2 separate regions of the Homo sapiens genome follow, and region 1 is linked to region 2. Evidence: fine-mapped expression QTL. Tissue or cell type: blood mononuclear cells. Region 2 holds a variant in brackets; the other region holds the start of a gene. All regions are shown on one strand. Distances are between the middles of the regions.

What was found. PIP is the estimated chance that this variant, and not a neighbour inherited with it, causes the effect.
Region 1: it holds the start of VPS54, and the variant in region 2 is fine-mapped to the expression of VPS54 in blood mononuclear cells (TOPMed, PIP 0.98).

What each region holds. Positions count from the first base shown.
Region 1 is chr2:64,018,382-64,020,881 of GRCh38, forward strand. It overlaps VPS54 (VPS54 subunit of GARP complex), which reads right to left and starts at 1,047. Exons shown (of 23, transcript NM_016516.3): 1 at 557-1,047. RefSeq lists an enhancer at 231-300 and a silencer at 461-1,170.
Region 2 is chr2:63,899,302-63,902,059 of GRCh38, forward strand. It overlaps VPS54 (VPS54 subunit of GARP complex), which reads right to left. Exons shown (of 23, transcript NM_016516.3): 21 at 173-280. Among named protein-coding and RNA genes, the nearest start is that of UGP2, 59 kb to the left of the region's middle. The variant G/T (reference allele first, on the strand shown) is at 1,587.

The DNA.
Region 1 (2,500 bases), 120 kb after region 2:
CGGCAGAGAGGGCCTGCCCTTTCTGTCTATGCAGAGATGGAAGGAGGCAGAACTGAAGAAAATTATTGCACAAATTATTTCAAGCTACATTGCCAAAATGCAAAATACTGAGTAACTCTTTGGGTTAGCCTTCCCCGGAGAGAAAAACAAACAAATGTTTTAACGATTCCAGTAGAATCCAATAGGACTAAGGGCCTGGCTGGAAAAAGAAAAGGAAAGTTTGGGGGCAGCGTCTAAGGGGGTGATGGAAGTTCCAGAGCTGGGATCCCGGAAAGATAAGAGAGGGGCAAGAGCGGCGTTTGCGGTCGCTGACAGGAGGCAGGGAACACAGCTGCCAGCCCCGATCCCGGAGGGAGAGTGAAAAGGAAAAAAAAAAAAAAAAAAGGAAGTGGCGGAGAGGAGCATGGAAGCTTCAGTGCCGGTCAGCTGTGACCGAAACTCGGTCCGTTTGGGGCTGGGGAGGAGAGCCGAGGGGGTGGGGTCTCGGTCCCTCTCTCCGCTGTAGGTCGGGGTGAGAGTGGGCTGAGACGCGCGGGGGGCCGCGGGGCACACCTACCTGCGGGTCCCGGGGCAGCCGCCCTGAGCGAGGCCTAGTGCATCGCCGCCGCCTCCAGCCCTCCACGTCGCACCGAGGCTGCTGCTCCACGGCCGCCGCCGCCCGGCGCCCGGCCGGGCCCGAGCCCGGGTTCCCGCCCCCGCCCCGCGCCCGCTGGCCAGTCGGCCCGGGGAGCACAGGGCCGCCCTCTCGAGCCCAGCTTCACTCAGGGGTGAGAGGTGGCAGCGGCGGCTCCCTCACGTCTCTCCCGGGTGTCCTGTCAGCCAGCAGTTTCCCCCGGGTCCGCAGCGCCGCCTCCGCCGCTGCTGCCACCGCCTCTCCCACATCCCCGGCCTCCAGGGGAGCCGCCGCCGCCGCGCCACGACCACTGCCTCTAGCGCTTCTGCTCCCGACTCCACTGCTTTCCCTCACCCCGCCGGCCCAGCCGGCTCGGCCCGGTCGGGTGCGGGGAGACAGCGCCGGAGGCCGCCGCAGCCCCCAGCCCACAATCCACCGCGCGGCTCCGCCGGGGCGGGAGGGCCGCGGCCCGGGCCGGGGGGAGCGCCCGCCGCCTGGGGAAAGCGGCCTTGGCGCAGGCCGGCGTGCCCGTCGCAGGCGCAGCCAGAGTTCTCTCGGGGCGGGGAATACACCGCGTGGCTCCCCTGCGCCTCCTCTAATAGTCCTACACGCAGACAAATCCACGCTGAATTCCACTTTCCCCACCACCCTTCCCCCCAACTCCCAGTTTTCAGGAACACCCAGAAAACCTCCTGCCGCCTTCCCCGGGACTGGGACGCGACCCCTCCAGCGTAGCCCTCGCCACCCCCAAGACCAACCGACTCGAAACATCCCTAAATCACCCGGGACCTATTAAAGCAAATACTTCCACGAGATTCCTCCTCTCCCCCACCCCCTCGAAGTAAATGCTTTTCAGCTGTTCCCTAGTAAATGCCCTTCCAAAGGTTAAAGGTCACCCCTCCGCAACAACCCAGTTCTCTCTATTGAGGCCTTTTCCCCATCCAGTCCTCCCCTCCAAGTCTTCCCCAAGTTCCAGGCCTTCCTCCCAGACACTGTAATCAGTTATTCCTGTTACTTGACTGAGATACTTGGAGTGTGTATGATAATTAATACCTTCTAATTCTGACTTCAGCCTGGTTTCACAGGACTTGCAACTTTAAACCAATAAAACACAGTCCACAAGAAAGGGAAGGTCTTAGTATATAAATATAAAGACACACACACACACACACACACACATATATTTTAGGAAGAAAAAGATCCTCAATCCTTTGAGTGCTTGTGACTTAATTTTGGGAAGATTTTATTCAATGTTGAAATTCTTGCCTAAAAATAAATTTCAAGCATTTATAAGACATAGTATGTTTTAACAAATCAAAAGTGAAAATGTAACTCTTATAGTTGGGGGGTTGAAAAAAATGTTGATCCAAGTTTCACTTCTAAGAAGTCACTTTGAAAACTGCAAACATAACTTTTATGAAATAATATTTTCCCCACCAAAGAGCTAAAGTTGGGGAAAGAGGACAAAAAGTAAGGAAGCATCAAAAATAGTTGAGAGAAAACTCTTACATTATATTTTTCTAAGTTCAATCCTCTAAAATTATGTAAGAAACAAAGTGAGAAAATCATTCCCCAATATGAAATAAATTTAACTGTAAAAGAGTGAAGTCCTCTTAAATCCCTGATCACTTATAAAACCAGATGAGTTTACATAGAAGCAGAGTAGAATGGTGGTTACCAAAGACTGGGGGGTAAAGGGTGATGAGGAAAGGGGAAATGTGAGTCAAAGGGTATAAAGTTTCAGGTAGGAGGAATAAATTTTAGTGATCTATTGCACAGCACGATGACCACAGTTAATAACAATGTATTTAATATTCCAGAATAGCTAAAAGAGTACTTTCTTTGTTTTGTTTTGTTGAGACTGTGTCTGGCTCTGTTGCCCAGGCC
Region 2 (2,758 bases):
AGAAATTAGAAATTTTTATCCATGTTCTACCAGTCAATATAACAATGTAAAAAAATGATAATCATATTGGAACATGAACAGCTTAACTGCCAAAAGCATGTAAAAACACCCCAATTCTGTACAGATATTGTATGTTATATATACATGAATAGTTTTAGGAATTACTTCTCACCTGTGTTTGTTCTTCTGGAAGGAGATCAAATATAGCTTCGTGCATTTTTGTCATTTGCTTACAAATATTCCTGAAACAGGCAGAAGGAACAGGAGCCTTCACTTCATACTGGTAGGAAAAAATAATGAGAATTATGTTCATGTCCTCTGAATTGCATAATGTCTCCACCATTCCCTGAGACATATATTTACTGTCCCTCCACATATCCAATTCTGGCATAGTACTTAAGCTTACACTTTTCAACTGTGATCTGCGCTACTCATACAAATCTTGAGAACTTTTCATTCAACATCTTAATTCACTTTGAAGGAACTAAAATAGCTCAGTGACTAAGAACAAAGCCTGCTTCCAATCTTAGAACAGACTGCTGGGTTCAGATCCCAGCTCCTCCCATTCTAAGCTAGGTGATGTTGGGCAAGTTATTTAATTTATCTATCCCAAAGGGCTGCTGTGAGGATTAAAAAAGAGGACTCATAAGAAAGCAAGACAGTGCTTGATACAAAGTAAGTACTCAAAAAATTGTTAGCTACTAATCTGGCTCAATATACAATATAGCCACTCCAAATAAACAGATTACGTTTTAAACAATTTAAAAATTAGCTGGGGCATGGTGGCAGGCACCTGCAATCCCAGCTACTCAGGAGGCTGAGACAGGAGAATTGCTTGGACCTGGGAGGTGCAGGTTGCAGTGAGCCAAGATCGCACCACTGCACTCCAGCCTGGGCGACAAGAGTGAAACTCTGTCTCAAAAAAAAAAAAAAAAAAAAAAAAGAATGTGTCAGTATGATCGTATCTGAAATCAACAGAAAAATCTGGCAGAATAAATATGTTTTTTATTTTGTAGGTGGGTCAATATAGTAATATTTTACCCTAACATTAAAAGGAGGATTTTTTTCAGCAATGTTCTGTGCTAAAAATTTAAACTTAGGTAAATTCATTTTACTATTCTTACATATGAAACAATATGGTAGTATGACTTTAAAAGCCATCTTTTAGCTTATATTTTAGAATTCACACAGCTGAAGTTATATACCGTTTTATTTATAAGACAAATTTGGGCTAAATACTATATCTCCCTTTGGGGAGATAACTGTCTAAAAGCTGGTTGGTGTTCCAAAAAGTGGACAAGGAACGCTATAGGAACTCAAGTGAAGGATATTTACATAATGATGTCTAATGGCTTCCCGAGCTGCCCACCTGAGGTGTTCAGTCTTCAAAGGGAAAATAAACAGGTGAAAATATTCCAGGTAGAGGACAGGCCATATCATCTCAAATCTGGTTTTTTTTGTTTGTTTTTTTTGATTTTTTGAGACAGAGTCTCACTCTGATGACAAGCTGGAGTGCAGTGGTGCAATCTCAGCTCATTGCAACCTCTGCCTCCCAGGTTCAAGTGATTCTCCTGCCTCAGCCTCCC[G/T]AGTAGCTGGGACTACAGGTACTTGCCACCCCGCCCAGGTAATTTTTTGTTTTTAGTAGAGACAGGGTTTCACCATGTTGGCCAGGATGGTCTTGATCTCCTGACCTCGTGATCCACCAGCCTCGGCCTCCCAAAGTGCTGGGATTACAGGCGTGTGCCACCACGTCCGACCTCAAATCCGTTTTATACACTATCTGATTAATACTTCTAAAGTACCATTCTAATCGTATGATTAATTCATTAAAAAACTTTTCGGTTCTACTTTTATTTAAAATTTAGAAAGCTGCAATAGAACATTGCTACTACCTTAACAATACAAAAAACAGATAATCTGTAAGACCATACATCAGAGAACAGAGATCAGGGGAACTAATTCCAAAGACTGAAAAGGCCCTCTGAGGAGAGGTGATACACAGGAACTGTCTCACTTTTGGCAGAGCATAAAAAGAAGAGGTAACCACAAGAGAAGCAAGTAAGATGAAAATAAGTAAAATTTTAACAAATTCTTAAAGGCCAAACGTGGGCTAGGATATATTTAGGATAACTGAAAACCCTAGCCATAAGGAGAGTCTGCACTCATGCACAAGTTTTACTTCACGGCCTCCAGGAGGTACTCAGAAGAAACAGGAGGATCAAAGGGAGAAGATCATATAGATCCACTCCCAGTAGCACAGGTATTCAGGAGGTGATTAGTTGCCACAAGGAAATAGAAACAAATGCCATCATCCATTTCCCCCAAACCCTATTCTCATACAAAGTAAAAGGCCTAAGTCACTGAGAAGGGGCACCAAACTCTCACCACTGGGGTCACGGTGTGAAGCCAGGAACAAAACATGCCTGCTCCTGGGCCGGGCATGGTGGCTCATGCCTGTAATTCCAGCACTTTGGGAGACCAAGGAGGGTGGATCACCTGAGGTCAGGAGTTTGAGACCAGCCTGGCCAACATGGTAAAACCCTGTCTCTACTAAAAATACAAAATTAGCTGGGCATGGTGGTGCATGCCTGTAATCCTAGCTACTTGGAAGGCTGAGGCAGCAGAATTGCTTGAACCCGGGAGGCAGAAGTTGCAGTGAGCTGAGATCACACCATTGCACTCCAGCCTGGGAGACAAGAGCAAAACTCCGTCTCAAAATAAAACAAAATGAAAAAACATGCCTGCTGCTGAAGAAAGG